4 linked regions of the Homo sapiens genome follow. The protein of the gene in region 2 interacts with the protein of the main gene of each other region in a biochemical or structural test. Each region holds a gene or a part of one and is shown on either strand. Other genes may lie near its edges. The genes, in order: KAT8, PLAU, SERPINB2 and SERPINA5.

Region 1 (7,383 bases), on a different chromosome or scaffold from region 2:
GTCTGTTTTCTTACCTATGAAAAGTAAGTAAGAGGAAGTAGGTAAAGTCCCTGACACACTACAGGAGCTTAAGAAATGGGATTTGCTATGGTTTTGGCACTGGGGCCCGAGAGACCCAAGGGAACTGGCAGAGAAGCTGGGCCTCCTGGGCCCGTGGATGGGAAGGGATCCGGACCTTCTGCACATGGTTGATCTCATCATGCTTGCGCTTTTGGTTGCGAGTGATCTTGCGCTCAGGCTGCTCTGCGAGCTCGCTCAGGTACTTCTCTGAGTTCTTCTGTACAGCATCCTTCACTGTCTTGGTCAGCGCCAGCCGGTTCTTGTCTACCCACTCGTCCAGCCGCCGGTTAACTGTAAGTATGGGCCATAAGAGTGCTGCCAGGGCAGCCAACTCCCTGCACCCACGCCCAGATGTGCCAAGCCACTCACAGCCCACGTAGTGTACATAGAATTCCTCTCGGCCCTCCTGGTCGTTCACTCGAGACTGGATCACTTCAGCAGAATCTGTGATGGAAAAAGGCTAGGGTCATCAGGAAGGTAAGGCTGGAACAAAAGGAATCCTGCACACTGAGAAGCAGTTTCCAGAGTTCAGGGCCACACATCAGCTAACCTCACTGGTCCACCTCTGCCATTCTACTCAATCACTGCCACAACTGTGAGGTGGATCAGGTTGAGGCTGTTATTCTCATTTTACGAATGAGAAAATAACTGGCTGGGTGTGTGGCTCACACCTGTAATCCCAGTACTTCTGGAGGCCGAGATGGGCAGATCACTTGAGGCCAGGAGTTTGAGACCAGCCTGGTCAACATGGCAAAACCCCATCTGTACCAAAAAGACGAAAAAAAAAAAAGCCAGGCATGGTGGCACACACCTGTAATCCCAACTACTCGGGAGGCTGAGGCAGGAAAATTGCTTGAACCTGGGAGGCAAGGCTGAGGCAGGAGAATTGCTTGAACCCGGGAGGCAGAGGTTGCAGTGAGCCGAGATTGTACCACTGCACTGTGGCCTGGGTGACAAGAGCAAGACTCTGTCTCAAAAAAAAGAACCCCAAAAAACAGAACAAAACTGAGGCTTACCTAGGGTCACAGATTTGAAAAGTGGTAAGAGCTAATACTTAACTGAATTTAAGTCTGACTCTAAATTCAATGCTCATTTTACCACATACCCGCAGTTGTTCATTTGTTCAGGGATCATGAGTGCTGGCTCTGGATTAAGATAACCTACATTAATGTATAATTCCAGGGCTGGGCATCGTGGCTCACGCCTGTAATCCCAGCACTTTGGGAGGCCGAGGTGGGTGAATCACGAGGTTAAGAGGTCAAAACCATCCTGGCCAACATGGTGAAACTTCGTCTCTACTAAAAATACAAAAATTAGCTGGGTGTGGTGGCGCACAACTGTAGTCCCAGCTACTCAGGAGGTTGAGGCAGGAGAATCGCTTGAATCCGGGAGGCAGAGATCGCAGTGAGCCAAGATGGCGCCACTGCACTCCAGCCTGGCAACAGAGAGCGATTCCATCTCAAACAAACAAACAAAAAAAAATACACAAAATTCCAGCTCCCTACTTCCTAGCTATGTGTAACTGAGCAAGTTATTCCATCTTTCTGAGCCTCAGTCTCTTCATCTGTGAAAAGGGATAACAGCTGGGCACAGTGGCTCATGCCAGTAATCCCAACACTCTGAGAGGGTGAGGTGGGAGGATCACTTGAGCCTAGAAGGTCTAGGCTTCAGTGAGCTGTCATCGTGCCACGGCAATCCCACCTGGGTGACAGAGCGAGATCCTGTCTCAAAAAAAAAAAAAAAAAAAAAGACAAAAGGGATAATAGTACCAACCTTAGAAGGTGAATTAATGCCTCCAAAATTTTTAGCAGCGCACCTGACAATTAGCAGAGCATTCAATAAATGAGTAAGGCAACCACTACGTGTCTGGCCCTATGCTGTGTTGTTGCCGGGTACAGAGGACACAGTGATGAATCACAAGAAGTGCTGCCCTCCAGAAGTTCCCAGTATGATGGAGGAAGACAGAGAGAGAAAATTACAACATAATGTTACAAAAACTATGACTGAGGTAGGAAAAAAATGTTGCAGGAACATAGAGAAGGGAACCACTCACTTTGCCTGAAGGGGAATCAAGGATGACATCACAAAGGATATGAAGCTAAGAGGATGAGTAGGAGCTAGGCAGGCAAACAAGGAGAAAGGGAAGAAAAAGCATTCCAAGCAAAGGGCACAGGTGGTAAAGGGCGTGTGGTCTTCAGAGGGCACAGTGTGTTCTGGCCTGGCAATGCCCTTTCCTAGTGTTGGCTAGAAACTGGAGAGGTCACAAAAATGAATGCCACCCTAAGGAGTTTGGGGTTAATTTTGAAAATGAGAGAAGGCAGCAGAACTTTAGGAAAGGGAAGCCTGTTGTTTCTGGAAGGTCTTCTCTCTGCGGATGGCTGCCAGGGACAAATGGAAAAAGAAGACGCAGAGACAAGAGAGGGTGAGGAAGCAGCGTTAGCAAGAAAAAGGAATGAAGCCTAAGACTGGGCAAGGAAGTGGAATGGGAACAATCCTGGTGAAGGCCTGAGCGGTGGGTTTGTAGGCGTCGCTCGGCATAATTCAAGGTCAACAGCCTCCCACAACCCGGCTGGTTTCTCAGCGCCCGGAACGCGGCGTTCTTTCCTCAAGCCCCGCCCCTCCTCCTCTCCACTCCCAGCCCCCGGATCTTGGCCTCACTGACAGCCTGTCCTCAGGCCCCGCCCCACCCCCTGGCCCTGAGCTCCGCCCCGCCCCCAGCCCTGGGCCCCGCCCTCACGCCAGGTGCTATCCGGTCGCCGGCACAGGTACGTTTCTCCGATCTCCACCGTGACTTCCGGCTCGCCGCGCGCCGGGGTCGGCGGAGAGACGCGGCCCGGGGATGGGGCGGTCCCCTCAGCGGCCGCATTCTCCCCGGGCCCGGGCTCGCCCTCCCCCGCGACCCCTGAAGTCCCCGCCGCAACCGCCGCAGCAGCTCCCTGTGCCGCCATCGCGGGAAGGGAAGTGACGCCAGAATCGGACGCCACGCAGTTCTTTTGGCTCCGGGTCAGCAGTGCGTGGGGCGGGCTCCTCAAGGTTTGAGGGCGGGGTCTGTGATGTAGCAGGAGCCGATTGGCTTCTGTGGCCGTCCCCGCGGCCCCGCGAGTTGGATGTTGAGTGTGCGGCAGTCTTGGAGCTCCTGGTTTTCCGTGCGGACCTGTGGCTGCAGCCTATGGGTGAGGAGAGGAGACAGACTTACCTCATGCGATGACTCAACTCAACCTTTTTTTAATTTATTTATTTATTTATTTATTTATTTATTTTGAGACGGAATCATGCTCTGTCGCCCAGGCTGGAGTGCAGAGGCGCGATCTCGGCTCACTGCAACCTCCGCCTCCGGGTTCAAGCGATTCCTCTGCCTCAGCCTCCCGGGTAGCTGGGACTGCAGGCGCGCGCCACCACGCCCATCTAATTTTTGTATTTTTAGTAGAGACGGGGTTTCACCATGTTGTCCAGGATAGTCTTGATCTCTTGACCTCGTGATCTGCCAGCCTCAACCTCCCAAAGTGCTGGGATTATAGGCGTGAGCCACCGTGCCCGGCCAGCTGAACCTTTTTAAAGGCCCTGGTACCTGCGGAAGCCAAGATGTGCCAATTTTCAGCGGGCGCTGCCCCCACTTTAACAGGGCAGAGCCAGAGCGGCCGCCCTGGTGGCCTGGAGCCGCACACTCGCGCTGGCCTAATGTCGCTCCCCGCCCCCCCCCCTTTTTTTTTTTTGAGATGGAGTCTCGCTCTGTCGCCCAGGCTGGAGTGCAGTGACGCGATCTCGGCTCACTGCAGCCTCCGCCTCCCGGGTTCAAGCGATTCTCCTGCCTCAGCCTCCTGAATAGCTGGGATTACAATCGCGCGCCACCACGCCCGGCTATTTTTTGTATTTTTAGTAGAGAGAGGGCTTCACCCTGTTGGCCAGGCTGGTCTCGAACTCCTGACCTCAGGTGATCCGCCCGCCTCGGCCTCCCAAAGTGCTAGGGTTACAGGCGTGAGCCACCGTGCCCAGCCAGTGCCCCATTTTTGAAGGTTGAAGAGACTACTTCCCCTATTTGGGATACAGTTGGTGCGGGGAAAGCAGAACGGGTGTGTCCAGGGACAGGCCATAATTCACCCTCACAGGATAAAGTCTAAAGAAAGGACGAGTTGGGCGGGGCGTGGTGGCTCACGCCTGTAATCTCAGCACTTTGAGAGGCCGAGGCGGGCGGAGATCGAGACCATCCTGGCTAACACCGTGAAACTCCGTCTCTACTAAAAATACAAAATTTAGCCGGGCGTGGTGGCACGCACCTGTAGTCCCAGCTACTCGGGAGGCTGAGGCAGGAGAATCGCTTGAACCCGGGAGGCGGAGGTTGCAGTGAGCCGAGATCCCGCCATTGCACTCCAGCCTGGGGACCAAGAGCCAGACTCCATCTCAAAAAAAATAAAAAGGCCGGGTGCGGTGGTTCACGCCTGTAATCCCAGCACTTTGGGAGGCCTAGGCGGGTGGATCACGAGGTCAGAAGATCGAGACTATTCTGGCTAACACGATGAAACTCCGTCTCTACTAAAAAAAAATACAAAACAATTAGCCGGGCGTGGTGGCGGGCCCCTGTAGTCCCAGCTACTCGGGAGGCTGAGGCAGGAGAATGGTGTGAACCCGGGAGGTGGAGCTTGCAGTGAGCTGAGATCACGCCACTGCACTGAGGGTTCTGTGAGAGTCAGTAAAGGTTAAAGCCATTTATATGTGTATGGTCCAACCATACACAATCGGCCCTCCATATCCGCATGTCCCACCTTTGGAGATTGAACGAAGAGCGGGTTGAAAATACAGTGTTGAGGTATGGTGGCTCACACCTGTAATCTCGCACTTCAGGAATCCAAGCAGGAGGATCGCTTCAGGCCAGGAGTTCAAGACCAGCCTGGGCAGCATAGAGACCTCCTTTCTACTAAAAATTTGGGGGAAAAAAAAAATTAGCTGGGCCTCGGGGCCCGCACCTGTAGTCCCACCTACTCAGGAGGCTGAGGCAGAGGGATCGCTTAAACCCAGGAGGTCGAGGCTGAGTGAGCTATAATCCCTCCACTGCACTCCAGCTTGGGTGACAGAGACCCTGTCTCAAAAAAAAAGGGGGGAAAGAAAAGGAGGCTGGGCGCAGTGGCTCACTCCTGTAATCCCACCACTTTGGGAGGCCGAGGCAGGCAGATCACCTGAGGTCGGGAGTTCGAGACCAGCCTGACCAACATGGAGAAACCCCATCTCTACTAAAAATACAAAATTAGCCAGGCGTGGTGGCCGCATGCCTGTAATCCCAGCTACTCGGGAGGCTGAGGCAGGAGAACCGCTTGAACCTGGGAGGCAGAGGTTGTGGTGAGCTGAGATTGTGCCATTGCACTCCAGCCTGGGCAACAAGAGTGAAACTCTGCCTCAAAAAAAAAAAAAAAAAGACTGGGCGCGGTGGCTCACACCTGTAATCCCAGCACTTTGGGAGGCCGAAGCAGGTGGATTACTTGAGGTCAGGAGTTCAAAACCAGCTTGGCCCACATTGTGAAACCCCGTCTCTACTGAAAATACAAAACAGTCAGGGGTGGTGGCGTGTGCCTGTAATCCCAGCTACTTGGGAGGCTGAGGCAGGAGAACTGCTTGAACCCAGGAGGTGGAGGTTGCAGTGAGCCGAGATCGCGCCACTGCACTCCAACCTGGCCGACACAACAAGACTCCATCTCAAAAAAGAAAAAGAAAAAAGAGGGAGGAAGGGAGGAAAAGAAAAGGAAAGGAAAGGAAATATTGTAAGGATGCAGAACCCACAGATCTGAAGAGCTGACTTCATATCTGCTGTTTGGCAGGGCCAACTGTAGGACTTGAGCGCCTGCAGATTTCGGTATTCACAGGCGGTCCTGGAACCAATCCCCAGCAGTTAAGCATGTATAACTATCAATCATATAACTATGTAACGGTTGAACTATCCGTCTTAGCAATATACAAGTGTATTGCAAAGTGCCAGACCGGGTAGGTACTCAGTAAACATTCCCTTTGGCTATTCTCTGAATCTTGTTTGATTTATAATGTGGTTATTGGGCTTGGAAACAATTCTGAGAGGAGTGGAATGCTCAGGGCCTGCGGATGGGTCTCTCAGAGGTTACAAATCAAGAAACATCCGACAGGCATGGTGGCTCATGCCTGTAATCCTGGCACTTTGGGAGGCTGAGGTGGATGGATCACGAGGTTGGGAGTTCGAGACCAGCCTGGCCAACGTGGTGAAACCCCATCTCTACTAAAAATAGAAAAATTAGCTGGGTGTGGTGGCACGCGCCTGTAATCCCAGCTACTCGGGAGGCTGAGGCAGGAGAATCGCTTGAACCTGGGGTTGGGGGGGGGTGGGGCGGAGGTTGCAGTGAGCGAAGATCCAGCCACTGCACTCCAGCCTGAGCAACAGATTGAGACTCCGTTTAAAAAAACAAAACGAAACAAAACAAACAAAAAAACAATGTAGGTGCTCCACCCAGATCCTCTGGGAGTTCTTGCTGTTTCTGTGTGCCCAGATTACCTTTGATGTGCTTTCAAAGACCCACACCAGCACCTGAGGCTCTTCTTAAAAAACCATCCTTAGGTTAATAGAGCTGTTCACTTTCCCAACTGACTTTAACCAGTGACTGCCAAGTGGAGAAATTAATCAGTAACTCTGAGGTTTAGCTCTCTTACCTTCAACCCTGAGGCATAATTGACTGGTTCTGGGCTTTTGCCTGAGGTCACATCCTTGCTTGGCTTCCTCCCCTTCCCCTTCCTACTTCCCCTACTCTGTTCTGGGAGCACTTTCTTAAGAAATCACGTGGACATGAATCCTCTCAGGGACTCCAACCAGAAACATCCCTTCCCAGCTCAAAACCCACTCATGGGCCAGCTGCAGTGGCTCATGCCTGTAACCCCACCACTTTGGGAGGCTGGGGTGGAAGGATCATTTGAGCCCAGAAGTTCAAGTCCAGCCCGGGGCAACATAGGGCTTTGTAGAAACCCTGTTTCTACAAAAAATTTTAAAATTTAGCCTGGCATGATGGTCCAAGCTACTCAGAAGGCTGAGGTGGGAGAATCTCTTGATCCCAGGAGTTCAAGGCTGCAGTGAACTCTGCAGCCACCATATTCCAGCCTGGGCAACAGAGCAAGACCCCATTTCTAAATAAATAAAAACTCACCCATGGATCCCTATGGCTCAAGATAAATCCCATGTTTCAGGGCCCTGGCCTCTGACTGCTGCCTGCCTCTCCAGCCTCAGCACCCTGCCTTGCAGCTGGCGGGATTTTTCAGTCTAGCAAGTCACTGTGGTTTCCTAGCCCCTGCCATTTGGCTTCCACATACAACTTCCCC
Region 2 (7,309 bases):
GGGTTCCCCCTCACCAATGTCGTTGTGGTGAGCAAGCGTGTCAGCGCTGTAGTCCTTGTGTAGGATGAGGTTTTCCACCTCAAACTTCATCTCCCCTTGCGTGTTGGAGTTAAGCCTTGAGCGACCCAGGTAGACGATGTAGTCCTCCTTCTTTGGGTAATCACTGTGGGAGAAGATACCCATCAAACAGCTTAGTCCCATGAAATCTGCCACTTCTTCCTTCCCTCCCTAGAGGCCTCAAAGCACGACTTGTCCCCAAGGCCATGGGCTGCATGGACAGGGGCAGATGAGGGAGAAATGAGGCGGAACACTTTGCTGGGAAGGAGAAAGGGATGTGCTTGGGGTGGGGCAGAAGAGTCGAAGAGGAGAAACCCAGGGCCGTACATGAAGCAGTGTGTGGCGCTGATCACCCAGCAAGGGCTGATGAGGCTGCCTCCACACACGTAGGTGACAGAGCCCCCCCGGTGCCTCCTGTAGATGGCCGCAAACCAGGGCTGGTTCTCGATGGTGGTGAATTCTCCCCCAATAATCTTAAAGCGGGGCCTCAGAGTCTTTTGGCCACACTGAAATTTTAATTCTTCTGGAGGAGAGGAGGGCTTTTTTCCTGGAGGACAAACAGAGGGATGTCTTAGGGAGGCAGGTAGGAGAAAGCATCCCTCTCGGGCACCCCCCACCTCCTCAGTCCTCCTGTGATGGAATAAGGGGACATGTAAGTTTGTCCCCTTCCACCCCACTGTCATCAGCAGGTCAGTGATGCTCACCATCTGCGCAGTCATGCACCATGCACTCTTGGACAAGCAGCTTTAGGCCCACCTGCACATAGCACCAGGGTCGCCTCCGGTTGTCTGGGTTCCTGGCAACACAGAAAGATAGGGGATGTCATTCCAACCCAGAGGGCCTTCCCTGCCTCCTCCCCTCAGGGAAGACTCAACCAGAGGCCGCACTTCTCTTGTGCTATGGCCAGCCCTCTGGGAGAAGGGGATGGTAACAAGGTTTCTGGGAAGCTGTAGGGAGGGCTTTTGGTCCTTGTTGCCCCCACCTCACCTGCAGTAATTATGTTTCCCCAGGCCCAGCTGAAGAGCATCAGATCTGTGGGCATGGTACGTTTGCTGAAGGACAGTGGCAGAGTTCCAGGGCAGGCAGGGCCGGCCCATGGTGTCAGTGCTGGCCTTTCCTCGGTAAAAGTGACCATTCCCCTCATAGCAGGTTTTTGACTTATCTACAAGGGGACAGGAGGATGAGAGAATATGAGAAAGAGAAGAACATTCCAACTAACTTTTATTTTTTTTTTTTGAGATGGAGTCTTGCTCTGTCGCCCAGTTGGAGTGCAGTGGTGTGATCTCAGCTCACTGAGATCTCTGCCTCCCAGGTTCAAGCAATTCTCCTGCCTCAGCCTCCCAAGTAGCTGGGACTACAGGCATCCACTACCATGCCAGGCTGATTTTTGCATTTTTAGTAGAGGCAGGGTTACACCATGTTGTCCAGGCTGGTCTTGAACTCCTGACCTCAAATGATCCACTCACCTTGACCTCTCAAAATGCTGGGATTACAAGCGTGAGCCACCATGCCCGGCTGCCAACGGACATTTTAAAGATGTCGTTTCAGACCTGCCAGAAGACTGGACAGGGTCTCCTTCCAACCCCACCTCACATTTGTGTGGCCACTGTTTCGTGAGCGTGTGTGTGTGTTTATGCTTGTCACATAGGGATGAAGATGTCACCCACCCTACCTCCAGCTCCTAACTCCTGCCTGCTCTTGCCTCCCACCCATCCCTCCCTGTCCCCAAATTTCTCTCCCAGTTGCAGTGGAGATCCCCATACCTATTTCACAGTGCTGCCCTCCGAATTTCTTTGGGCAGTTGCACCAGTGAATGTTGGAGAAGTACTTGTTGGACACACATGTTCCTCCATTTAGACAGTCACAGTTCGCTGGAGAGAACAAAGGTGGGGTAAGCGAGGGGGAGTGGAAGTGGTAAGGGGTGGCGCAGCCCTGCAGCAGAGGGCAGGGAGGGGATGTCCCCTGAAGCCTTCCCAACTTGTCTGTGCAGCCAACTGTTGTAGGGGTGGATACTCACATGGAACTTGATGAAGTTCATTGCTGCCCTGGAAGAGATTCGGGAGGAGGCTTCATCAAAGGTCCCATGCTCCAGGGACTCCAGGGTGAGGGTAAACTGGCCCCAATCCCAAAACCCACTCTTCCCTCTCCCTCTCGCCTCACCCTGTTCGTATCTAGTTCTCAAATGGAAGACCATGGGTTTCCAGCCAGGAGAAATGGATTGACCCAAGCAAGCTTCATCTACCAGATGCCCGCAGGCTGGGGCAGTCCCGGCGGCCTCTTCCTCCCTTGCCAGCCAGTGCCAACCCCCGTGGTTCTCAAGCCTCCGCTGCCACCCTGTCCCATTTCCTGGGGAGAGTCTGGCCCTGCTGTGGATGGAATCCGGAGGACCCCAGCTCCCTGAGCAGCCCCTCCTCTCCCCTGGTGCTGATCAGAGGTCCTTGGGCAGCATCAGTCAAAGCAAGAGCGCACTCACTTTGGAGTCGCTCACGACCAGGACGCAGAGAAGCAGGCGCGCCAGCAGGGCTCTCATGGTGGCGAGGTCGGGGCGCTAGACGGCGGCTCTGCAAAGGAAGGAGAAGTCAGGGCAAGAGGCGGAGGAACGGGAAGGCAGGCCAGGCGGGCGACTGCAGCGCAGGGGAGATGCCCGCGGTGACCAGGCTCCCCAGCTGTCTCTCTCCTCTCTGGGCTCCGGACTCCGGGCAGCCTGGATCGGCACCCGCGGGGGACGCCCGGGACGGGGCGCCTTGACTCCGTGCAGCCGCCGGGGAGCCCAGGGAGCCCGGGCAGCCCAGGGCGGGGGAGGCAGACGCTCGGGAGCTGGGGCCGCCGCGCATCCGGCCCGGGGATCTCAGGACCGCGGCACTCACCGGTGGCTGCGGCAGGAGGGCGCGAGCCGGCGCTGCGGGGACAGGTGGACCCTGGCCCGGGCTCCGGGGCTGCGGTCTCCGCACTGTGCTGCGACCCGCGGCGCCTGCTCTATATCAGGGCCCGCCCCGGCGCCGCCCCTCCCTCTCCCGCCCGGCTCCCTCCCCTGTCTTGCAGCGCTCAGCGACCCGGACCCCGCGTGCTTCCGCAACGCTCACAAAGATTTGGGGGAAGCGCGATCTCCAGCGGAGGGGACCCAACAGCGTCTGGACTGAGGAATCGAGAGGCTTGTAAATTCTCCGTGCTTCCTCCCATGCACCTGGCCGGGGGCCTGCCCCAGTGCAAGGAGTCCCCGAATTGCAGAGAGGAGAGAAGGCGCACAGGAGACTCTCTACCTCGCCCAGCTCTGAAGCCTCCTGGGGTCCTCTAATCAGTTCTTCTGCAACTTCTCCCCGCTGGGCCCCAACTTGCCTAAGACTGCCTCAGACCCCCTTGCCCGCAGCTGATGGAGCTGTGAAGTCTTCATCAACGCGACAAATGTACGAGACATACTCTCCCAGAAGCACAGACAGAAAAACCCCTGCCTGTAGGGGCTCCCTCTGTGCGTCTGTTCAGTGGCAGTCCCCAGATATCACCAACACAACCAGTGGATGGAACAAAGCCGGGCTTATTGCTTTCGGCAGTAAGGGGGTTTGTTTGATGGTGCTATCAGAGGGGGAAAGGCAAGGCCAGATTACTGAAAATTTGCAGCTTGGTTTAAAGTCCGTTTTTGACAGGGCTTGATAAGGATTGGGTTAGGTGTCGTGATATGATGTTACAGGATTGTGGGAACAAAGTCCTAGGGCATAAACTGTTGGTGCTTCCTATTGAAGTGTTAACGGGTCTTTTGGGAAGTTTCCATAATGAGCAATTCATTTATTTGTGCAGGCAAGAATAAAAGTAAAGACAATGGAAACATGTAGACAGTTCTAACTGTGGAGGTTCTGGAGGGTGTGGAAGTTCTGTTCTCACCTCTGAGTAGAGGAATTGGGAGACTGGAGGACAAAATAAGAGGAAGATTTATTTTTCACTGTTTGTCCTTTTACACTCTTAACATTTTAAAAAGCACATCTCTGTATAGCCCATTCCAAAAAGATAATTATGCATTTTTTAATGCATGTGTATTTAGTGTTTTACTTCATCATAGAGCCTTGTTTATTCTATTCAGATAGAAACAATTGTTTATCAAATAAAATTGTCCTCCAGAAAAACAGACCATGTGTAAATGACTGCATCCACCCTTCCTGCCTGAGGATAAGCAGACATTTGTGTATACACACACACACACACACGCATCTCTGGGCACACTTGGAGGAACATAGCAGGGATTCTGTGATTCTGTCACCCCCATCTCTTTCCCCTAGTGTCAGGAACCAGGGCTTGGGGTCATTTTGAACCCAGTAGGACTCGCTCTCTTAGTGGGAAGGAGGAGGCTGAGTCCCAGCAATCCACTAGCGGCTTTGGGCCCTTTCCCAGCCTAGGCCTGCAGCATTTTCCTGCCTTGCAAATCTGGACCTTGGGTCTGGGTCCACCTGAGAGTGACAGAAGGAAGGCAGGGAGAGTGCCAGGAAGGTAGGAAGGAGGAAGGCTCCTTTGCTCTGCCCCAGCCGAGGGCTCAGGGTGCCAGCTGCCTGCTGGGGAAAGTACAAGTTAGCCTTTCAGCTTTTGGGAGGCAGGTGACCCACTGTCTTCTGGAGAGACTTCTGTGCTTGCTGAGCTGCCAGCCTTCCAGGGGACAGACTGAGTCAGCGATGCTATAGGCTTCAGAGCCAACCTTGCTACTTCCTCTAGAAGACTGTGGTCAGTTTTGTTTGGATTTGAGAACCCATTAATTGTAAATAAACGTGACCAGAACATAAACAGAGATGCTGCAGCCTGAGGACTTACCCCGAAACTCCCAGGTTAGTTATCAGGAAATTCCCAGGGACCGTCATGATTCATGTTGCTCCCCTAGCAGCTCTCATGACTCCAGATTACTTGGCTGGAGGCTGTCATGCTGATTGCTGAGAGCAGATGACTTCATTTCCTCCTGGACAAAGAGGTTTGGAGACCGTTATGAAGCGTGACACCCTTTCTCCCCTTCCGCCCCCTCCTCCCCCGTGCCACCTCTTCACCTAGCACTTCAACTCTTCACAGAACTTCCTTATCCATGCGCTAATCTTTAGCACTCTCTGAAATCTTTGTGCACAGTTCTTTTTTTTTTTTAAAGACAAGGTTTTGCTGGGCTTCTGGGTTCAAGGGGTCCTCCCACCTCATCCTTCCAAAGTGCTGGGATTACAGGCATGAGCCACCACGCCCAGCCATATTTTTTTTTTTTTTTTTTTGAGACGGAGTCTCGGTCTGTCACCCAGGCTGGAGTGCAGTGGCACAATCTCGGCTCACTGCAAGCTCCGCCTCCCGGGTTCACGCCATTCTCCTGCCTCAGCCTACCGACTAGCTGGGACTACAGGCGCCTGCCACCACACCCGGCTAATTTTTTGTATTTTTAGTAGAGATGGGGTTTCACCGTGTTAGCCAGGATGGTCTCGATCTCCTGACCTTGTGATCCGCCCACCTCGGCCTCCCAAAGTGCTGGGATTACAGGCGTGAGCCACCGTGCCCGGCCCCAGCCATATTTTTTATATTGTATTTCTGTCTTGTGCTTCAAGGCACATTAATGTAAACCATTTCTCTTTAAACTCATAACTGCCTTATGATATAGACTGGTATTGTTGTTCCCATTTTGCAGATATGGAAAATGAAGTGGAGAGAAGATACACAGTTGATGAGCAGCAAAGCCAGCACTAAAACCCAGCGTCTTCTGATCCTTGTTCCTATGCGCTATACCTCACTGTCTCCATAAAAGACAGAACGCTGTGAAGGGAGGGGCCAGTGAGCTAAGATGATCCAGCTCAGGGGAGCCCTCCTCCTGACTTTGGAGACCTCCTTCCAGAAAGACTGCTCGGACTATGGACTCTGAGCTCTTAAGTTGCACCCGCTGTAATACAAATTAGTTGTTTGCCTGAATTCCAAGAACTGTCTCTGTGGTCTAGGCTGTCTGAAATTTCTGTTGAGGGTAAGAGAATAAGGAACTGAATGTGTATGATTTCATTCTTTTCCTGACTCCTAGGGTGAAGCCACCAACCCCTGCCTCTGTGTCTCAAGGGTACAGAGCTCCTGAGTCAGATGTGGCAACACAGACTGCTGGAGAAGCCCTTTCCAGGAGATTCTCATAAAAGGGAAGGCAGATGCCAGATGCGCAGGGAGGGGCAGGGTATCCAAACCTGGCCCTGAGACTAAGTCCAGGAAACTCAGCCCCTAAGGACTATTTTCTGACCCAAAAGGAAGTTCCCATGGAGTCATAGGATGCAATTCTGTGTTGTATATGAAGAATGCTCAGCATGGCACTATAGAAAGACCACAGTGCCTAGCCTTCAGTCTGCTACATCAAAGTTGAATGATCTTAGGCAAGTTGCTTAACTCTTTTTTTTTTTTTTTTTTTTTTTGACGTGGAGTCTCGCTCTTGTCACCCAGGCTGGAGTGCAATGGTACAATCTTGGCTCTCTGCACCCTCCACCTTCTGGGTTCAAGCAATTCTCCTGCCTCAGCCTCCCAAGTAGCTGGGATTACAGGTGTCTGCCACCATGCCGGTCTAATTTTATATTTTTAGTAGAGATGGGGTTTCACCATGTTGTCCAGGCTGGTCTTGAACCCCTGACCTCAGGTGATCCACCTGTCCAGCCTGTGCCTCACTCTGCAGATTGGCTGAGATCATGCTTGCATGTAAAAGTATTCATTCATTCCATATTTATCATGGACCTACTGTGTGCTGGGCGCAGTTCTGGATGCTAGAGATAGGAAGAGGAACTGTGTAAACTGTAATTCCTACATCGAGTGCCTGCCTCCCCTTTTTGACTGTGGCTGGATTGACTCAGAAGACCAAGTCAGGCTGGAGTCCATTCCAGGATTCCAGGCCAATGGGGATGCTGTATCCTTGGCCAGCAGTTCCCAGCAATCAGGCAGCTGGACCCACAGCTGCATGTGCTGTTCACTCCCACATTGCCTATGCTTACTCCCTCTCCCTCTTGTCTGTGTCCCTGTGTGGCCTGAAGCGCCTCTTTCCCTCCTACACATGGGGCAGACGGACTCTTCAACAGTTCTGGGAAGGAGGTACGGAATGCTGGTCACATAGCTTCCTTGAGTCTAAGGACCCCTTCTTCCTGAGTGTCTAGTGTGAAGGGTGAAGCCAGCTGGCAACGGCAGGCACTGAAAGCCGCTTCTGGGCATGTAACATGATAGGGGGATTGCTGGAGCTGCAGGCCCCCAGCAGGCTGTGGAAGGGGTGGAGGGAGGCAGCATTCTTGCTTCC
Region 3 (6,716 bases), on a different chromosome or scaffold from region 2:
CAACCTACAATTTGCCTTATTTCTCAGGTCTTCAATTATGTTCTCCTCTGCCTCTGACTCATTCAAAAGCATTACTGCTATTAGAAACAAACACACTTAGAAAGAGCCATCTTATGTTTCCCCTCCTGCTCTTGCACCCAACCCATCTCCCATCTTCACTGCTTGCAACTCTGAGCTCAATGACTGAGGCCTTCTTCTGTGTCTGGACCACTGGACTTGGTCATTAATCCTGGTGTCCTTAATGTTTAGACAGTGGTTTCCCCAAAGGACTCTAACCTAGACTATTCTGAATTGCTATGTCTTTGCTGCTGTGAGAAAGCAGCTCTAACCCATTTTTCATACAACCCCATCCCACTGACCCTCAACATTGGGTCTTTTTGAATGAAGGTTGTTATGTCCTTGGCTCCTTCATCCTGTCTATTTTTTCTGAGTTCTCACAAGTGAGTCATAATGCTCAACTCCTAGGAGTCAAGGTCTATGATCTGCAGACCTAATGAAATGACAACAAATGTATTGTTGTTTGGAAGCAGGTTTATTTATTATATACTTGCAATTGAATATAAGATACAGACATATATATGTGTTATGTATTTCTAGAAATGCACATAACATATATTTGCCTATTGTTTAATGTTTTTTCCAGATATTTATTACAGAAGGGCATGGAGGGATACCTACTTATTCTTCATTATGAGAACAATTAAAGGCATTTATTAGATAGGAAATTAACAGATCATCTGCTTCTATAACTTTATTAGCTACATTAAATAGGCAGTGAGCAATAATTTAAAAACTCACCATTATATAAAATAATAAATAACAAAGTAAAAGTTAATGTTATAAAAATAAACTGATAGTAAGGAAAATCTAAATGGGCATGATCCCATTTTAGAAGACCAAATGATTAATAGGGTTGTCATGTTATAATAGACAATTGTCTAATTATTTCTGTGTTTTTATTTAGTGGGTAGCAGAAGTTGTTCAGAAGAGCAGAAATATGTAGAAAACATCTCTAAATTTTTGGCAATTTGAAATAGCAATTCTGAGGCACACAGCTCATCTACAAAAATCTTTTGCAGAAGCAGCACGCTTAGTTTTAGGGTGAGGAAAATCTGCCGAAAAATAAAATGCAGTTGGTTATCTTATGCATAATAAGAAAAAGAAAAGGATGATCTGCCACAAACTGTGGGCCTCCATGTCCAGTTCTCCCTGTCATAACACCTCCTGTGCCAGCGGCTGCTTCAGTGCCCTCCTCATTCACATCCACCATGGCTTGGTGGAACACTTCAGAAAGAAACAGGTCATTCCTCTCCGACATCCCTGAGAAATTGGCCCGTCCCTTGTTGAAGGCGTCCTCCATGCCCATGCTTCTCAGAATGGATCTGAGTTCATAATGCTCTTCTAATTTGAACTGGGGTATGTATACCTCAACTTCATCTTCAGCCATTTTGTCTTTGCTGGTCCACTTGTTGAGTTTGTCATAGGTTATTTCACTTTCCAGCTGCAAAGCAAAACAAAACAAAACAAACAAAAGAAAATACAGCAAGTATTAGAAAGAAGGAAAACAACTTTAAGTCTAATATTAAAAATCAGTGACTTTACTATATTGTGGGTGATATAGAAAGTTAACAGATTGGTCAGATTTTTACAAGAAGGTAACACGTATGACATAGTTAAGGCTTTGAATGAAATGTAGAGGCATGCCATATTTACTATCAACTGTTTCATATATTTCCATGAGAAATTACCACACCATTTGTAAGGAGTATATATTCATCTCATCTCACGAAAGGTAGGTATAGCCCCAGAAACTTAAATATCTGAATGTCTTACCAGCTCCAAGCCAGTGGACACATCGGCAATTTCATCTGGAAGCAACAAGAACATGCTAACATCTCCAGCATATGGGAGTTCTAGAATCTGAGCCTTTAGGTCTTCTATGTATCCAATGTTTAGCTTTTCACGCAAGTACATCATCTGTACAGGTGTGCGCTGAGCCTAATATTATTAAAAGGTAAAATATGGAAGTCGATTATAAGATATCAAGAGATTTACAATTAGACATAAAGGAGGATTGGTTCTACTTTAGTGTAGGATAAATGTGATTTTTTTAAATCAACAAAATAAATTATTTGTACATCCTTACAGTGGGTACTCTGATGTTATTAGCTTGTTCAACTTTATACCCATTATTTAGTAAGATGGACAACAATGGTAATGACAACCATAATTCTAAAACACTTGTTTAGTTCTTACTATGGGCCAGGAACCGTGCCATGTCTCAATATTTACAGCCCTTTGAAATAAGTGGTAGAGCCAACGTTGGAGTCTGGGCATGTATAATTAAAAAGCCACAGTCTTCCCCTTTACCTATACTGTTTCTAAAGAGTCAATCAACTGTCCAACATGCATAACTTCTAACTAGCAAGTCTATAATGAGCGGTCTCTAATTTTTCTGTCTATATCTTGTCAAAAGCCCTAAAATATATGCTAGGAAGATGTATTTTGTTGTCTCATACCGAGTTTACACGGAAAGGATAAAGCCCATTTAGTTTCTTCTCAAATGGAGTTTTCCACTTTCCTTTGAAGTAGACAGCATTCACCAGGACCATCCTGGTATCCCCATCTACAGAACCTTCAGGTAACAAGTTTGGGATTTTGCCTACAGAAAACATAACATATATTTAGGTTTCATAATCAAGAACTGTGAAATTACTTACTGAATCTTCTGAGTAGCCATCAAACTAAATTCTTCAAATTGCAGAGTTGTTAATCTTCAAGCTAAAGTTTTTTAGGTTTATTTAAAGCAAAATTAAAATTGAAACAAATTTCCCAAAAGCTTGCAAAATCCAAGAAAAAATGAAGAAATAATGCATTTAAAATTTAGACCGCCTATCAAGTTTGGAATGGAGATTTTCACTCCCTTTTATATTCTTTTCTCAAAGCTTGGCAGTTGAAAGTTATTCAAATCAGAGGGAAGTGAAAGAGAGGTTCTTAGGGAATATAATAGTGCCTTTCCAAAATATATCATGTACTGCTAGATCTGGTCTAGATAGTCTGAGGATCTGACTTACTCATTTATTCAAAAACGTTTTGTAAAAAATATACTAGACCTAAATTAAGAGTAGTGCAGATACAAGAGATGAGAAAGGAAGAATTATCCTGGATGAGCCTAGAACACTGGGGGAGACATTCAAAATCAGTTGTGAAACCCTGTGTGATAACTTCTGTAATTGAGCTAAATAATATATTGAGTACTATGATCATACAGAGAAGGGAGTGAAGGAGTAAGCCCGAGAAGATTGACAGAAACAATGACAAATGAGTGTGGTCATTTAAAAAAATGAAATTGGTTTAAGAAGCAGTTTGTTTATAGTTAGTACTCGCTCTGCAGTATTCCAAGCATCAAAATATATTATTTTGATACTCTATTAGGTGGGTTTTATTAGTGTCATTTTATGCAAAAGGACACCACCAGGTTAGCAGTCTTCCCAACGTTACAATGCTGGTAAGCTTGTAAAAATTCTGCCTCCACAGTCAAAACTACTGACAAATACAAGACTCTTAACAAATTAATAGGTCAATGTGGTTTTGAAGTAGGAGGTGGGACCTGACTCTGGAGGCAGGTTTTAGACACCAGGCCAAATTGAGGGCTAGCTAAAATGGGGACCAGGGACAGGATGGAAGCAGTGTACCATGTCAGTTTACCATTGTGATGGCAACACCTTGGAGTTACCACCTCTTTCTGTGGCAATGACCTGATGACCCAAAAGTTATTCCCCGTTCCCTAGAAATTTCTGCGTAAACTGCCCCTTAATCTACATGTAATTAAAAGTAGGTATAAATATGACCCCCAAACTGCCCTGAGCTGTGCCTCTCAGCACAGTGCCTGGGGTAGCCCTTCTCTGCAGGAGGAATCATGGAGCTGTAATACTGCCACTTCAATAAAGCTGTTTTCTTCTACCCTACCTCCAGCTCACCCTTGAATACTTTCCTGGGTGAAGCCAAGAACCCTTGAAGGCTAAGCCCCACTTTGGAGCTTGCCTGCCTTGCATCAGTTTCATCTTCAATGTATTCATTTAATATATACATTCAATATATTTCCCAAGCTATTAAAATTTTTGGTTAGTATTGGGGTATAGTAATGTTGTGATGTATATGATAAAACTAGTATTTGATCATAGCATGATGAAACAGACAATTCTCTCCAATTCTTACAAAAGCTGGTAAAACAATCTGCCAAAATAGCTGCTTGGCATTTTGGCAAAATAACTGATTGACTTACAGCCATTTAGCACAATGTCTAAAGAGAAAAACAATTCATGCCATTCTTTAAAGAAGGCAAAACTTCCATGTGTCTCTTTAATTTTGCTCTCCATTTTTACTTGAACTTTTGATTTAAATCATCTTTCTCTGCTTCCTTTGTGTCAGTGGTCTGTCAATATTTTAGAACAGTATTTCACAAATCCACAATGAAAATGAAGAACTAAAAGGAAATCAATTATTTTCAGATAAACAAATAAATATATATTTTTTGAAATCCCATAGCACTTAGTTTATGTGCATTTTCCATTGTGGTAATTAATAAAGCAAGACACCAAACTATTTCTTGAAACAATGTCTTAAACATAAGAGTTAAATGAAAATCCTTAAAAAAATAAGTTATAAAATTTTTAAACATCCGATTGAGGAATTCTGGAGTTAGACTAAGGATCAGAAGAAGAAGCAACCCTGGCTTTACCGCTACCAGTGGGATCTTAGGGGAGCCGGCTAATCCCCTGGGAACAGGATGCTCCAACCACAAATTGGTAAGATGGATAGGAGCTCTCTTAGGACATTTTCAATCCTAACAGATCATAAATGAATGAAATACTTACACAATTCTGAATTCATAATCATCTCTGTTTCTTAGAAATACATTTATATGTTATTATTCAGCAATTGTTTACTTAAGGCCTACAACTCTACCTGGAAATTCAGAAGAATGAAGGATTTTCACTGTCAGCAAAAAACTGTGCAAATTTTTGTGGGGGCATAGGATAAGTGTGACATACTGGACCTACCCAAAAATAATTAGAGCCTGAGAGGAAAAGCAAAACAAACTAACAAAAATCAGTTCCATAATTGTTTAAGGCCATATATGGCTAACACTAATGTGACTTGTGAAGCTGAAAAAGCAGATGAGGAGATGAGAAGAAGAAAAGATCAGGAAGTAATTGGGAGTCACTTCCAGGAAAGAGTAAGACTTTGGCTGCAATTTAAACTGCAACTTAAATCCTGTAGTTGAGGCATCCTCAGAAACAAAGTCTAGAGGCAGCAATGAGTGTTTAAGGAGCTCCAAGGGCCAGTGGTAGCCAAGCACAGTCAACTGGATTACTGAGAACTCAGAAGTCAAGGTAAAGAATGAGACCTTCTCCTGAGGACAGTAGGAGGTCACTGACAGTTTTTAGTGTGGGAATAGCATAATAAGTGTACTGCATCACCTCTTTAATTTCACCTCCTTCCCTTGGCCCTCCACACTGCAGTCAGACCAGACTCTATTCTTCTCCTTAGGGTTACCTCTGGACCTTTGCATATTCTGTGCACTCTGTCTGGAAATCTCCCCCCAGGCATGCACCCTCCACCTGGCCAGCTCCAGCCTGTCTTCCCAATTACAATTTAATCATTTTTAAATCCAGTCAGATGCCTTTCCTGTGTACTCCCACATAGCACCTGTACTTCTCAATGAAAGCACTGACTACTACTCTATAGCAATTGCCAACATGACTGAATCCCTCCTCTATAGGCTCTATGGTGGCAGGATTTACCATTTTTATCTTTATCTCCACATATAGTTTCTGGAATATGGTGTGTGGTGGATAAATATTTGTTGACTAAGTGAATGAACTTAATAGAACTTAATGAATGAATGAATTCAATGAATAAATGACTTAATAAACTAAATTACAATGAATAAATGATTCAATTAAATAATTTATTCATTGTAAAATATACAGAGGGAGGCAGGAGCCTGTGAAACAATTAAAAGCATGAGTTAAAATGGTAGACGTGACTTAGATAATCAAGGAGGGATGAAGCAGAGACCAAAAAAACTTGACAATGGATTGGCTTTGAATGGTGAAAGAGAAGAAAGAGTGAAAATAATTTTATGATTCTTCCCTCCTCCACTGCCTGTATTCTTTATAGCTCACACCATTTACTAAGCTCAGGGTCAAGCCTTGTTTTCTTTTTGTCCACAGTGGGCATAGACTCACAATTATTTCAATGCTGATATTTCCTATTTTGAAAGCTTCTGCCTCCTTTCATATTCTATCCTCAAGCAATATCCAAAATCAAATATTTAAGTACTAAACATATGTCTTCTATTAGTAGGCCTCAATTATTTCTTCTCAGTTAAAACACCACTGAGCTAATCAGGAATAAATTCACATCCACCAAAGTAACTGCAGTTGGACAAATTGTAAAGGGGTGAGGGCTAACTAAGTTCATGGATGGAAAAAGATAGATCAGAGTTTTCTAACTGGAAAGAAGTAAATAAAATATTTTCTTGGATTTACCTTTGGTTTGAGTCTTGACCCAGGAATTAATCTTTTTTCTAGCTTCTTCTGCACATTCTAGGAAGTCTACTGCCTGGGGTTCTGAGGAGTAATATTTCTGACAGAGTCGAATATATTCCTTTAAAGCAAGAAAATGACAAAGGCTACATAAAATACATA
Region 4 (7,000 bases), on a different chromosome or scaffold from region 2:
AGAGTAGAATGGAATGGAATAGAATAGAATAGAGTGGAGTGGAGTGGAGGAGTGGAATGGAGTGGAGTGGAAGAGTGGAGTGGAGGAGTGGAATGGAGTGGAATGGAAGAGTGGAGTGGATGAGTGGAGTGGAGTGGAGGAGTGGAGTGGAGGAGTGGAGTGGAGGAGTGGAGTGGATGAGTGGAGTGGAGGAGTGGAGTGGAGGAGTGGAGTGGAGATGTGGAGTGGAGGAGTAGAGTGGAGTGGATGAGAGGAGTGGAGGAGTGGAATGGAGTGGAATGGAATAGAGTGAACTGGAGTGGAGTGGAGTGGAGTGGAACTGAATAGAGTGAACTGGAGTGGAGTGGAGTGGAATTGAATAAAGTGAACTGGAGTGGAGTGGAGTGGAATTGAATAGAGTGAACTGGAGTGGAGTGGAGTGGAGTGGAGTTGAGTGGAATGGAATGGAATGAAATGGGGTAGAGTAGAATAGAAAGAATAGAACAGAATAGACCTTGGGAAGCAGATGCATAGGAGCTTCTGAACCCACCTCAGACACCTGGATATTTGAGTGGTTGCTGATGCCGGACAGATCAGCATGGGAGGTGAAGACGTTACTGATCCCCAGACTGGGGAGGACTTTCTCCAGCTGATAGGAGCCCTCAATGGAGAATTTGGGAAGGTAAAGCTCGAGCTGCCTGGAAAGGGAAAAGGAGCTTTCTTAGACTGTTCTGGGGCATTGGCACACTGAGCCTCACCCCTTGGATTCATAATGCACTGGATTCTTAGTTTTGATGGTTTTAAAAAAGGACTCCTTAACCCAAGGAACAATGGTGGTTATGGCTCCTCTGGCCTCTTTTCTAGGATGAGCCTCCCCTTGCTCTGGACTTGGACGTGGGCTGCCCAGAGGTCTCTGCCCACTCTGGCACCACCCTAAGGAACCCAGTTTCCAGCTCTTGTCCCTCCAACTGGGCTAGGCCCCCAGGACTTGGATGTCACAGGATGCCTCTGGGCCTGGAGGCAGCTCCTTGGCTGGGTGAGTCCTTCCCACCAGTGCTGTGTGGCCCTGGTAGGGCGTGTGTGTCTCCCTGGGGCTGTGTGGGTTTAGGCTGGCCCTGGGGTAGTCTGAAAGTACCTCTTTTTGAACATCTTAAGCCACTTCCTCAGCGTTTTCTCACTCAGTCCATTCTCCACCTGCTGCATCTTTCCCTCACTGGGGAGAATGAACAAAGCCGTGGCATTGCCTTGGTAGGGGACCCCCACCACCCTGCAGGAGAGGTTCCGGTCCAGGAGGTAGTGATACTGATCCTCGCGGCTCATCATGGGTACCCGCACCACAGTCTCCGAGGTCACGTAGAAGTCTTGCTCTTGGGTGCCTTTGTGGTTGAAGCTTGTCTCCCACTTAGCTAAAGATGAAAAAAGGGAAAAATGAAAAAGAATTTTGTGTCAGAATTAGAAATTCTCAGCTGCAAATAAAAGGAGTGAAGACAGTAAAGATAGCCAGCGGAGACCATCTTTATGGCAGCCCCAGAGCAGTGACTGTTGAACCTCTTGAATATGAAGGCAAGTCTCTTTATAACATTGGGCACATTCTTGGACTTTTCGTGGGACTTTTCCTTCCACATTTGCAAAACAAGGAGGTTGGTTTTCACATCTTCAGAGGCCCTGGACCCCTGATGTTCTCTGATTCTCTAACGTTTTACTCAAGACCAAATCTCCAAGTGAAGAGGGTGAAAAATGTGGCTGGCTGTGAATGCTACCTGATATCTGGGTGAACTTCTCTGTTTGCACTTTCATTCCAATATTTTGATTTAAATTTTAGAAAGAAGTTAGTATGGATCCTGGAAATGAATGGTTTTTCCCATTGGGAAGTCTTCAATGACCCTTCTCTGACCTTCCTATGGGAACTTCTGAACAAAACGCTACAAGTGATTGTTTCCAACTTCTTTTTATTTTATTTTATTTCTTTTTTTCTTTTTTTTCTTTTTTTCTTCTTTTTGAGATGGAGTCTCGCTCTGTGACCCATGCTGGAGTGCAGTGGCGCAATTTTGGCTCACTACAGCCCCCACCTCCCAGGTTCAAGTGATTCTCCTGCCTCAGCCTCCCAAGTAGCTGGAATTACAGGCGCCCACCACCATGCCTGGCTAATTTCTGTATTTTTTAGTAGAGACGGGGTTTCACTATGTTGGCCAGGCTGATCTCGAACTCCTGACCTCAGGTGATCTGCCCATCTCGGCCTCCTAAAATGTTGGGATTATAGGCGTGAGCCACCATGCCTGGCCTGTTTCCAACTTCTTAATCGTTATCGAAGGAAGACCCCAGTCAATACCGTCCTTAGCTTATTTCCCAGCTGCCCTCAGCAATCTGGTGTAATGGGGACTGCCCTGCACCAGGGGATAGGAAATCTCAGAGTCCAAGTTCGACACTCACTGCTGTGGTCTCAATGTTTGTGTCCCCACATTGTTCATATGTTGAAACCTAACCCCCAAGGTGGTGGTATTAGGACAGGGGGCCTTTGGGAGTTGATTAGGTCATGGGGGTGGAGCTGTCATGAACAGGATCGGTGTCCTTACAAAAGAGACCACAGAGAGCTGCCTTCCTCCTTCCAGCAAGGATATACTAAGAAGGCACTCTCTATGAACCAAGGAATGGGCACTGCATCTGCCAGTGCCTTGATCCTGGACTTCTCAGCCTCCAGAACTATGAGAAATATATGTTTGTTGTTGCTAAGCCACCCAGTTTATGGTATTTTGTTATAGCCACCCAAATGGCCAAAGATACTCATGATCTGTGACCATAGGAAGGGGAGGTGTTAACAATTTACCTTCCTTCGCAACCCTTCCCACCCTCTCCTCTCCTCTCTTCTCCTCTCTATCCACTCTTGCTTTCCCCAGGGTCAGCAACTGGCAGGAGCTGCAGAGGCGAGCAGGAATGCTTACAAGGAGTGTCGGGGAGATAAGCAGAGGTCAGCTCTTGCTGAGGAGTCAGGAGGAGGCATTTCAGAGGAACAAGCATTTGTCTGAGGGAGTCTTGGCCTCTATGAGGGCAGAGGGGCCAAGATCTGAGGGATACGGGGGACTGGGAAATGCCCTTTAAGCCCTTCTGGGGTCTGTGTCCTGCCCTGAGTGGCTAAGGTGTTGGTGTCTTTGCCATGGTGGCCACAATGGGTTCATACTTCAGAGCCTGTAGAAAGCTGGGGCTTCAGATGTCCCCAGGGGCCCGAAGACAGCAACCAGCTCTTCCTCCGTGGAGGAAACAGCATCTCAGCCTCACTAATCCCATCCACAGCAAGAAGGCATTCATCTTACCTTCTCTGGCTGCTTGTTTACTTAATTTTTCTCAACAGGCACCCAAAAGAACTTAACGTACTCCCCGTCTTTTATGTATGTGAGGGAATTGGGTATTCTTTAGATAAAAGCAGCAGAAAAGCCAAAGAAAGTGCAGGTTTGGGCCCAAGGGCCTTACCTTTAAAGAAGATGTAATTCACCATGATCACGACCGCATTGCTATCGAGGTTCTTAAGCAAGTCCACAATCTTGCCCTTCGTTTGCTTTGCCACATAATCATTGATCTGCTTCATGGCCCCTGCAGAGTCCCTAAAGTTGGTAGGGAAAGTGTCTGCCAGGTACAGCGTCTTCATGGCACTTACGAAGGTGTCCTGCAGGTCTACCACCAGGTCGGTGAAAAGGGCATTGCCGAGGCTCAGCTGGAAGCCATCTCTGGGCTGGTTGAGTTCCTGAAGGAGCTGCTGAAAGCCTCTGTGCAGCTCCTTCTCTGAGCTTTTCTGGAGGTTGAGGCCCAGGCCCTCCAGGATCTGCATCTTTGTGCTGGACCCAGCCCCCAGGGAGAGCATGGCCAGGCTCATGGAGATGCTCACAGGGGAGAAGAAGATGCTCTGGCTGGGGGCAGCGGAAGCCAAGGCCCTGTAGAGGTCAAAGGTAAAGTCCCTTCTGCTGCTGGGGGCCACCGTGGCACCTACATGGAGGTCCTCGACTCTCTTCTTCATCTCCCGGGGGTGGTGGCGGTGAAGGGAGGCCCCCTGAGGGCTGAGAAGCACCAGGCACAAGAGGAGGAAGAGCTGCATGGTGGCTGTTCTTTGTTCTGAAAGGGAAAGAAGGTGTCCTCAGAGAGGGGTGGAGCTGGTCCAGGTGCTGACTTTCCAGAGATGTCCCCACCCAACACTCAATGGGTATGTTTGGTCCATTCAGCTTCAAAGAGAAGGGATGGCACCCGCAAGACTGGGCATGAGGGTTTACACAGGGTGGCAGTGGCTCGAGGACAAGATTTAGGGATGACGGGGAGAGGAAGGAGGGAGAGGAGGTGCAGACCCAAGGCAGGGGTCTGGCTGCCAGGGCAGGAATCCTGTCTACCCATCCACATCAAGGGACACATTTTGGAGGATGGGATATGGAGGGAGAGGGTTCCCTCTGCTCTGCTCTGTCTCATCAGCATCTCGAGGTTACCAGGGAACTAAGCTGCTTCCATGTGAGCTTCTGGCCTTCACTCTGGTGTCCTGGTTTGGCACATGGCAGGGCGCTGTGGTCCTTCTATGAACTCAGACCAGCTACATGCCTGGGACCATCAGCACTGCTGGCCTTGCCCTGTTCATTCAGCAAACGCTGAGTGAGTGTCCACCCTGGGGTAGGCAGAATACCAGTATGCAAACTGTCCCCTTCTCCTTCCCCCAGGGGCTGCTCCATGCCACCCTTGTCCCACAGAGAGACATCTTCCCCTCCTAAAGGAATTCTGCCTGAACCTCTTCATGTGGACATCCCCACCGTCCTCCTGTTCTGGCTGAATTGTGCCCCCAAAATGCATATGCTGAAGTCCTTACCTTCAATACCCCAGAATGTGACTATATCTGGAGATAGGGCTTTTAAAGAGGGGACTGAGTTAGAATGAGGTCACTAGAGTGGGCCCCAACCCAATATGACTACGTCCTTACACAAAAATTAAAAAGAGGAGATCAGGATAGAGACATGCACAGAGGGAAGACCAGGTGAAGACAGGGAGAAGGCAGCCACCTGTGAGCCAAGGAGAGGGGCCTTGGAAGGAACAAATCCTGCTGGTGCCTTAATCTCAGACTTCCAGCTTCCAGAGTTGTAAAGAAAGAAATTTCTGTTGTTGAAGCCCCCTAGCCCCTGGGACTTTGTGACAGCAGCCCATGCAGGCAAAGACATCTTTTCATCTTCCAGATGAGGAGGCACTCATCTTTGTCTCTAGCTCTTCTCAGGGAGGCCTTTGTGGGGTCTCCCATCACTCCTGACGTGGCCTTGGCCTTCAGTCCTCCTCTTCCTCCCTCCACTTCACCCAAGAGCCGTTCCTGTGCCCATGCCTCCCCATCTGGCTACGGGTAGAAGTCTTGCCTCCTCCCTCTGCAGTAGGAAACAGCTCAGGCTCTGAAGCCACTGCCTGGGTTCAAATCTCAGCCCTGCTGTGTCCTTGTAGTGTGATTTTGGGCAAGTCAGTTACACCTTGAGCCACTGCTCCATAACTGTAAGATAGTGATAATAACAGCACCTACACCATGGGGTGCTTGGGGGCACGTGCTATGGAAGTGTGAGCAGTAGGCATGGCAGTTTCTGGCAAAAGCCCCATCTGAGGCCTCCATATTCTCAACTGTACCATAGGGTACATGCTTTACACACACACACACACACACACACACACACACACACACACGTGTGAGCCTGACAGCACCCAGGCTGGCTAATTACCAGGTGCAGAGGGCCTGCCTGGCTTCTGATGTGAGCTTTGCCCTGTGTGTCGCCTTGGAGGGAATCCCTTTCTGCTGGGCTCTCTCCATGGGCACAATGTCATCAGTGACCCCAGATCCCCACCAGGCAGGGGCAGCCTGTCACAGCATCCCGTGACCCAATTAAAACCAAACTCCAAAGGGCCCCAAACAGGTGGGTGGGAAATCCCTTGCAGAGTGGCCGTGGGGCTCAGCAGTGGAGAGAGAATGGTCTCAGGAATTGGGCAGGCTTGGACTGCAGGCCTGTCTTTAAGTGAAGTTGAATAGCTCCAGCAGGTCACCCTTGCCAGCCCAGCCTCCAAATTGTGTCCTGAGCTCCTTCCGAGAAGGAGCCTCATGTAGAAGTTTCTGCCTGCAGAATCGAACCTGGCACCAAACCCAGCAGCCACAGCAGTTGGGCGCATTGCCCGCACCCTCTTTCAGGCACTGTGCCAACTCCTTCAGCCCTGCACCACCCAAAAAGGTACATCTTGCTGCTAGCTCTATTTTACAGATGGGTAATCCGAGGTTCAGAGAGATGGAGTCGCTTGCTAACACTGGCAAAGCTTGGACTCAGACTCGGTTATCACTCTGACTCTGCAGAGTCCTGCCTCCTCTGCAGAGTCCTGCCTCCTCTTTTCCTGGCTGCATCTTCCTGATTTTGAAATCCCTGACTTAGTAGCCACCAACAATAGCCCTAATCTGCAGATAATGAGTGAGCAGAGTCTGGGCTTCCCCCCACTGACACTCCCTACCTGTTCCCACCATGGCACTTGCCTGGAGAGCTTTGAAGGACATAGGTGGGTGCTTTAATCTCCGGCTTCTCTAAATGAGTCTATTTTACAGCACAATATGGTCCCTCCTGCCAAGGGTTGGAACCAGCCATGTATGGAGATGCTTCTAAAGAAACAATGTGGCTCAACCCCCCACAGGGTCACACTGAGCTGATAATTTCGAGAACAGCTTCAGAAGCAGGGGAGTTTCCTTATTGGATACAGCCCAGGGGCAGCTGACCAGAGAGTCTCAGTGAGGCCCTGGCCTCCATTCTCCCATCTATTCAGCTACTAGGTCACCCTGGGCAAGCCTCACCCCCTCTGGGCCTCAGTTTCTTCATCTGCAGTCTGCCATGTGTTGTGGACACCCCCTCAAGACCCCGCCCCCTGCCAAGCACTAGAGATCCGATGGGGAGGAGCTGCTTCTCCGGGTGTGCACTGAGTCTCCCCCAGGATCTGTTTGGAGAGGGCCCCAGGTTCACTTAGGCTCTCCTGGGCTACATGTTTGAGACCC

What was found.
Region 1: of the proteins of PLAU (region 2) and KAT8, one has a biochemical effect on the other in vitro, tested with the Homo sapiens proteins (one study listed by BioGRID).
Region 3: the proteins of PLAU (region 2) and SERPINB2 form a complex in vitro, tested with the Homo sapiens proteins (one study listed by BioGRID).
Region 4: the proteins of PLAU (region 2) and SERPINA5 form a complex in vitro, tested with the Homo sapiens proteins (2 studies listed by BioGRID).

Annotation. Positions count from the first base shown.
Region 1 is NC_000016.10:31,113,307-31,120,689, reverse strand, and holds the start of KAT8 (histone acetyltransferase KAT8), read right to left. Parts: upstream 3,027-7,383; 5' UTR 3,009-3,026; coding exon 2,798-3,008; intron 2,632-2,797; exon of another isoform or gene 1,834-2,631; intron 505-1,833; coding exon 430-504; intron 352-429; coding exon 176-351; intron 1-175.
Region 2 is NC_000010.11:73,906,834-73,914,142, reverse strand, and holds the start of PLAU (urokinase-type plasminogen activator isoform 1 preproprotein), read right to left. Parts: upstream 3,012-7,309; 5' UTR 2,925-3,011; exon of another isoform or gene 2,619-2,924; 5' UTR 2,588-2,618; coding exon 2,531-2,587; exon of another isoform or gene 2,252-2,530; coding exon of another isoform or gene 2,218-2,251; exon of another isoform or gene 2,103-2,217; coding exon 2,075-2,102; exon of another isoform or gene 2,048-2,074; intron 1,944-2,047; exon of another isoform or gene 1,929-1,943; coding exon 1,821-1,928; intron 1,220-1,820; coding exon 1,045-1,219; intron 854-1,044; coding exon 762-853; intron 605-761; coding exon 385-604; intron 164-384; coding exon 15-163; intron 1-14. UniProt on the Homo sapiens protein: Specifically cleaves the zymogen plasminogen to form the active enzyme plasmin.
Region 3 is NC_000018.10:63,897,686-63,904,401, reverse strand, and holds the end of SERPINB2 (plasminogen activator inhibitor 2), read right to left. Parts: intron 6,676-6,716; coding exon 6,558-6,675; intron 2,663-6,557; coding exon 2,520-2,662; intron 1,999-2,519; coding exon 1,834-1,998; intron 1,502-1,833; coding exon 1,097-1,501; 3' UTR 514-1,096; downstream 1-513. UniProt on the Homo sapiens protein: Inhibits urokinase-type plasminogen activator. The monocyte derived PAI-2 is distinct from the endothelial cell-derived PAI-1.
Region 4 is NC_000014.9:94,584,426-94,591,425, reverse strand, and holds part of SERPINA5 (plasma serine protease inhibitor preproprotein), read right to left. Parts: intron 4,081-7,000; 5' UTR 4,064-4,080; coding exon 3,445-4,063; intron 1,386-3,444; coding exon 1,115-1,385; intron 678-1,114; coding exon 530-677; intron 1-529. UniProt on the Homo sapiens protein: Heparin-dependent serine protease inhibitor acting in body fluids and secretions. Inactivates serine proteases by binding irreversibly to their serine activation site. Involved in the regulation of intravascular and extravascular proteolytic activities.